Linked DNA regions of Homo sapiens. The protein of the gene in region 1 purifies or fractionates together with the protein of each later gene. This does not show direct contact. Each region holds a gene or a part of one and is shown on either strand. Other genes may lie near its edges. The genes, in order: NBAS and ACVR1.

Evidence for each region.
Region 2: the proteins of NBAS (region 1) and ACVR1 purify together in Homo sapiens (co-immunoprecipitation; one large-scale study listed by IntAct). This does not show direct contact.

The regions. Positions count from the first base shown.
Region 1 is NC_000002.12:15,470,723-15,474,547, reverse strand, and holds part of NBAS (NBAS subunit of NRZ tethering complex), read left to right. Parts: intron 1-223; coding exon 224-481; intron 482-1,200; coding exon 1,201-1,326; intron 1,327-3,825. UniProt on the Homo sapiens protein: Involved in Golgi-to-endoplasmic reticulum (ER) retrograde transport; the function is proposed to depend on its association in the NRZ complex which is believed to play a role in SNARE assembly at the ER. Required for normal embryonic development.
Region 2 is NC_000002.12:157,764,741-157,768,565, reverse strand, and holds part of ACVR1 (activin receptor type-1 precursor), read left to right. Parts: intron 1-2,369; coding exon 2,370-2,645; intron 2,646-3,825. UniProt on the Homo sapiens protein: Bone morphogenetic protein (BMP) type I receptor that is involved in a wide variety of biological processes, including bone, heart, cartilage, nervous, and reproductive system development and regulation.

The DNA.
Region 1 (3,825 bases):
AAACAGGCTTTAGTTTAGATTTGAGCTGATAATGTATGTGCATATTTCTGATGTATATAATGCTTGCTGTAAGGTTCCTTTGAGTTCCATTGTTAATCTTGATCACATAGCTGATTTAATGAATCAAACCAGAGTAGATTTAGAAATATATTTTCTTTCATTAATTCTAAAAAGTTATTCTTATTTCCTTACTATTAACTTCAAATCTCCTTTTTCAATTTAGTGTGAGATTAAACTTGCCCCCAAACGATCTCGTTTGGAGACTAGAGCTGGAGAAGAAGATGAAGGAGAAGAGGATTCTGATTCTGATTATGAAATATCTGCCAAGGCTCGCTACTTTGGTTATATAAAACAGGGCCTTTACTTGGTGACTGAAATGGAGCGATTTGCACCACCACGGAAACGCCCACGAACCATTACTAAAAACTACCGCCTTGTGAGTTTGCGCTCCACGACACCAGAGGAACTTTATCAGAGGAAGGTGAGAGAGTAGCATATTACTACCCAAGTTTGAAGTCATCAAGCTTTTCTTTTATTGAGAAAAAGTTAATTTTTTAATAAAGGAGAAAATTTCAAGAGGGATGTTGGATCATTGACATGTTAAAAATATCAGTTCTATAAAGCTTTTTAAAATAATGCTAATCTTTGTACCTAAATAATCAAAATCAAAACCATGGATAAAAATTGAATTCACTTAGACTGATTATCCACTTGGTGGCTTAGCTCATTTCTTTGCTACCCTTCATGTGGCCTTCAGCTCTCCCTTTATCTGTGTTTAAATCAGCCATCTACAGAGGGTGAAGGAAGAAGTTCAGACTTGCTTTCTAGTCCAGGGCTTGCTTGGGAAGCCGAGGTGACCAGCACTGTGTGTTCACGTGATTTGTGCTGTTCTTGCAATGTCGTGGTAGGAGCTCTGGACTAGAAGCCGGGTTGTTCCATGGTTGTCTTGGTTTTGCCGCTGTTTTACTCTAAAACGAGAGCTTTGCACCTTTTATCTCTCATCTTTCTGTTGAAGTGCTGAAAGAAACACGAGATCTTTCTGCTCCTCAAAATATCTGTGAGCTTCTGGTGCCACAGTGCACAGGAATTAGTGACATGCTGGATAAGTCCAAGGGATTATCATCATTCATTGTATCATCATCAGGACCCTGTGGATAATTCAGTCATGTAACATTCCTGTCCTCGTGTTTTTATCTGAAGATTGAAAGTGAAGAGTATGAGGAAGCCTTGTCCTTGGCTCATACCTACGGCCTGGATACTGACCTTGTATATCAGAGGCAGTGGAGGAAGTCAGCGGTCAACGTTGCTTCAATTCAGAATTATTTGGTATGTTTAAATATTTTGGTAATGTGGTAAAATGTATATTCATGTAATATCTTTTGTTTATAGGGCTTCATTTTAGAGTACTTTACATTGCTGACTTTTCTATAATACAGCCAATGAAGTACAATTTTCTCAGCTGGAAAAATGGTCTTTTTGTTAGATTTTATTGCCCCTGCAACTGGACTTTGATGCTGAATACATGTGAACAAATATTCACAGATAAACCAGCTAACTACTTGGTCTCGGCCTAACGTTTTCTTTCCTGTACCACAATCACTTCTCTTTACCTGCATGAGTCAAGAGCTAGTCAGATGCCAGAAATCACACAGTAATTTAAACAGGGAAATTTACAATATGGAGAATTATTTTCTAGTAACCAGAGATGAACTATAAAGGATGTGAAGAGAACGCTAAGGACTACCCTAGGGCTGAAGGGACATATCCATGAAGGGAATGAACTTGGAAGGGAGGCCCCTCCCCTAGGCTGGGATTCAGACCCATTGGACCAGGAGTGGTTGCAGCATGTAGGATGGAAGAGAAGTTCTCTGGGTTGCCTTGAGCCAGGGCTGGTCCACGGTTGCCAAGGTTGGCAGTCAGGGAGATATGGGATGGATAGGAAAGCTGGACGCCTGCTTCTGGGGGGGGCCAGTGAGCTGAGGTTGGGGTTTAGAAGACCCCAGGGACTAGGAAGCAGGAAACCCCTACCAGCATGCATGTGGCTCAAGGCTGGTAGATAATTAAGGAATCATGGCCAAGACTGGCAAGAAAAAACTGTCTACTCCTATAGGCAGCCTTACTGTAGCTTCCAGTCTGGGAAGCTTCCCTCTCAGGTGCCTGGGTGATTCACTAGAAAACAATCTGCCCATGAGAGTGTCACTGAAACTCAGTGGGAGGTTGTCAACAGAGGGAGGAAGCGGGGAAGTAAGTGCCACTTGATGTTGCCCACGTGCCTTGTTGGTGGCCAAGCCATAGGAGCAAGAAGAAAAGAACCAAAGCACATCAGGACTAGAAAGCAGAGCCTCTTCCTTTGCAGTGGCCCTCCAGCACCCAGAGCTTAAAATCGTGTCAACCACAAATGAGATATGCTACCACAGAGCTGGCTTTGAGGGGAAATTTGGAGCTGAGAGGCAATAAATAGGTAACATATATGAAAACTGCGAAATATGCCTTTTTAAAACTTAAATCTCAAAACTGGATACTTCCTGTTACCTGCCTCCCATAGTTAAGGTTAATATAGTCTTGTCTCAATTAGTTTTAGCCGCTGCAACAAAAATATCAGACTATGTGGTTTCAACAGCAGAAATTTATTTCTCTTAGTTCTAGAGGCTGGGAAGTGCAAAATCAAGGTGTTAGCCAATTTCGTTCCTGGTGAGGGCACTCTCCTGGTTTGCAGATGGATTTCTTTCTTGCTGTGTCCTTATATGGCAGACAGCAGAGAGAGAGAAAGAAGGCTCTCTACTGCCTCCTCTTATGAGGACACCAATCCTATCATGGGGCCTCCACTCTCATGACCTAATTGCTTTCTAAAGGTCTCATTTCCAAACATCATCACTCTGGGGATTAGTTTTTCAACATATGGATTTTGGGGGACATATTGATTTCATAGCAAGCCTATATGTTTTAACCTTTGGCATCTTTGTAAGAAAGAATTATAGTTAGACTCATGGCATACTTTTAAAAAGGTTGAGACTTCTGATCTTAACATATAGAAAGGAAAATACCTTTGCATTGTGGAAGATTATAGGAAACACTGGGAAAATTTCATGATGATTATTTCCCTAAAAGTTTTATACGTTAGTAATTAAAAGTAAAAATATAACATGAAAAAGTTGTATGGAAGAAGATGATGCATCAGCCAAACAGGATGATAAACCTAACATTAATACAAGCAAGATATCAGAGGTGAAAGAGCATGAGAGGTAATGAAACGGAAGAAGATAAAGTTGCTTGTATTTTCTTTAGAAAATCAAAACACTAATTCTGTATTATTTTTCTTTCTTGTTTTGTGATCTAAGACAATGAGCTCATGAGTTCATGTATATCTTTTTCTGGGATACAGTAAAGGACAGTTTTTGTCTCTGAGGGAGTTGAGGGATGTTAAGAGAGACAAAGCAAGTACTTTTTTGGGGAGGGGAATATTTCGTTTAGTTAAATAGACAGTTAAGAGCAAGAGCACTATGCTAGGGACTGTGAAGGGGTACAGGACAGGCATAAATGTGGCTTTTGCTCATAGGGAGCTTATGATTTTTTTTGTTTTGTTTTGAGATGGAGTTTTGCTTTTTTTTGCCCAGGCTGGATTGCAATGGTGCGATCTCGGCTCACTGCAGCTTCTGCCTCCCTGGTTCAAGTGATTCTCCCGCCTCAGCCTCCCAAGTAGCTTGGGACTACAGGCACACAACACCACACCTGGCTAATTTTTGTATTTTTAGTAGAGACGGGGGTTCACCATATTAAAAATAACTGGCCGTATAAGTAGATTTCAGATACAACTCTAGAAACCCA
Region 2 (3,825 bases), about 140 Mb from region 1:
CAGATAAACTTCTTCCCTAAGACCTAAGGGGCTTAGTGAAGGTGAGATAATAAAAATGTATTCGTTTATTATTTATTTATTTAATCAGAAGCTCCTTTTTCTTGGGAGAGGAAATCAGTAGAGGCTACACAGATATATAACAGTAATTTAATTTCTTTTGAGTGGTGCTGTTAGAGTTTGGGGTATTTTTTAAGAAAATCATTAAAGATTAGTATTATTTGGTTCAAACTGTTAAAGCAGAAACATTTTCTTTATTAAGAATAACTAATGTCCAAGAACACATTTTGATGCATATTGTGGCCAGCTAAGGGCTCCAAGAGAAGCAGCATCGAGGGGAAAAGCAGACTGGGGAGCAGGGAAGGAGTGGGAGACTCAGGGCTGGCCATGGGAATAGGCTTAGAGGAAGAGAGAGAAAGAAGTAGAGGGTGAAGGTGCTAAAATATTATTCAGTTTGCTTTGCATATGTCCCATAGGTGAAAATGTGAAATTATTTTTTCTCTGAGTAGAAATCAGTTTGTTTGGGGACAGTATGGCATAGTCAGTAAGAGTCTGGGTTCTAGAATCAGACCTACAGGAACCTAATATCAATTATGCGATCTACTTACTTCATGTGGTTTTTGGAGGATTGCATATAAAGTTCCAGGCATGTAGTACTCAATAATTATTAGCTGCCTCTGTTGTGGTTGCCGATGATGATGATGATCAAATAGGGGACCTTTCTTGGCTCACAGAGCCTTCCTATGCAAGGTATCAGGACAGCTAGCACTAAATTCAGAGTTGATAGCAACTTAAATAGCTGTGTGATCCTTGGCATCTCCCAGCACCAACTTTATTATCTGTAAAATGAGCATAATGATGTCTTTCTTACCAGCTTGTTGGGAAAAATCTCATGAGAAAATATATGTGAAAGTGACATAAATTTTATATAAAGTACTATGCAAGTATAAAGCATTTTAATGTATTTTCTCTTACATTTTCATAAGTCATTTAATTCTTCCTCAAGCCATATCCGTCTTAAAAAATTTTTTTTCTCACCTCTTTTTAAGTCCCAAACTTCACTGTCTACCAGCGTGGTTCATATATGTGAGAATAATCCTAGAAAGGCACCTCTGTAGCAGAAAAGGCAAGCACACGTCACAATTTATTTCATAAGATAGGAAGTGCCCCTAACTTCCAGACAGTCTTCTGCATGCTCAAAAGTTCCCTCCAGATGTCTAGAAAAATCTCTTCCGGGCTGATCGCGATGTCTCACGCTTGTAATCCCAGCACTTTGGGAGGCCAAGGCAGGTGGATCACCTGAAGGTCAGGAGTTTGAGACCAGCGTGGCCAACGTGGGGAAACCTCATCTCTACTTAAAATATAAAAAATTAGCCCGGCGTGATGGTGGGCCCCTGTAATCCCAGCTACTCGGGAGGCTGAGGCAGGAGAATCACTTGAACCCAGGAGGCGGTGGTTGCAGTGAACCGAGATCGCGCCATTGCACTCCAGCCTGGGCAACAAGAGGGAAACTTCGTCTCAAAAAAAAAGAAAAAGAAAAAGAAAAATCTTCTCCAACCTCTTCATCCACATTTGTCAGTCACTCACTTTACTTCAAGACCAGTTGAGTTGCCACTTCCTAATGGAAGCCTATTGTAACACCTAGTCTGAATTACTATAATTTCCTGCTCTGGGCTCATGTTGCCCTTTGAAGATATATATTATAGTACTTTTCGTATTTTATTGTAGTGTTTTCGTTTTTACATCTGTCTTCTTTAGCCAGCAAACACTATCATCTTGGTTTTTCTGTGTGTGACTGACAGATAGCATCATAAATACTCATATATTTGGTTGGTTTCTTTTTTTATTTCGTGAATCAGTCAATCATTTAATGTAAACTTGCCCCCTTTATTTTACATCTGAGCAGATATAGGCTAAGGAGCCTAACTGAGTTGCCCAGTATTAGACAAGTAAATCACAGGCAGAGTCAGGACTAGAATACAGTACTCAGGTTTTAGATTTGATGTTCTTTTAGGATGGTTGATGAATGGTCTGTTCCTAAAATATCAACATGCTGAAGGGCTTGGCACTATCATTATGGGTGAGCACAAAGATATTATTGCTATCTGAAACTTAAGGAATGTAAAATATCTTTTAAAGTATTACTTATAATGAAATGAATATGAAATTTTCCTATTAGCAGTGCCCTTTTAAGGAATAAATGCTATTATTTTTCTCTGTTGATGCTTCTGTAAACCTCCTCTTAGGGCAATTGGTCAGTTTAATTACTTTTTGTTACAGATGACATTTACTGTGTAGGTCGCTATTTCTAAATACTTTAAGTTATAATGTGGAATCCTCATGTATATTAATTTTTTTCTTGCTCTCTCCAGGTTTCATTGCTTCAGACATGACATCAAGACACTCCAGTACCCAGCTGTGGTTAATTACACATTATCATGAAATGGGATCGTTGTACGACTATCTTCAGCTTACTACTCTGGATACAGTTAGCTGCCTTCGAATAGTGCTGTCCATAGCTAGTGGTCTTGCACATTTGCACATAGAGATATTTGGGACCCAAGGGAAACCAGCCATTGCCCATCGAGATTTAAAGAGCAAAAATATTCTGGTTAAGAAGAATGGACAGTGTTGCATAGCAGATTTGGGTAAATTTCTAAAAATATTTTTTTCCTCACCAGTTTTATTTTTGTTTCAATGGTTAGGTGAGTTGCATCTCTCCCCCACAACATGTTATGCAAAATTTCAAACATGCAGAAAAGTTGAACATTTACAATGAACACCTTTATACCCACCACATAGATTCTCACATTAACATTTTACTATCCTTAAGCATTATTATGTATTTATTCATCTATTCATCTCCCCATCCATCAGTCCATATCAACCTTTGATAGAGTTGAAAGTAAATTGCAGACAAAGGAATTCTTTCTTCTGATGATTTCAGCATGTACACTAGTATATCATTGACAAGAATGCATTATTTGCTTTTTCTTTTTTTCAGGTAAAATTTATATACTGTGAGATATACAAATCTTAAGAGTTTTGACAAATGTTGTAAAACCCAAATCCCTGTCGAGATACAGAGTTTCCCATTACTCTTGACAGTTACCTCAGGCTCATTCAGTCAGTCCCTGCCACACCCCACCTCAGAAGTAACCAGTACTGTTGCATTTTGGTTTCACTAACCTTCACATAAAGTAGGTGCACAATAAATACTCTATAGAATTAGTTTATCTTAAAAGTGGTCTCTAAAATCATTCTGTAACCAAGGCAAAAGAATCAAGTTAAGAAATAGGAAAATAATCCCCGAACTGATTCACTCTTTTCCCTGTTAGGATAGCTCATTCTTATGGTGTTAGAGTAGTACTCAGTGTAGCTTTAGTTGCATTATAAATAAGAGTATTTTCATTTATAGTGGCATTTTATATAAAACCATGTTCTTCCTGGATTCCTAGAATATTGGCTAAATAATTGTGCTAATGAGAATTCAGGGCCCTCTACTTGATTAAACATGGTTTATATGATATTTATATTATTGCAATTATTGTTAGCCTGATAAAGGTTTAGACAAAAATAGCTTTAGTTATGTAAATAACAAAGTTTATTTTTGTTTGTTTTTAAACATAAGGGATTTGACATGTTAGGAAAATTTATTTCCTTTGAATCCCTTTAAAGTCTTTGCTTTTACATTGAGAAATTACAATGTTTCCCAAGTAGGAGACGAAAGATTTTAGGATAAGCATTGAAAGAGCATGGCCCTAAAGTTTTTTGCAGGCATTTTTAGTTGTGGTGTAGAGGACTTTTATGGCTTATTCCATGGCTCTT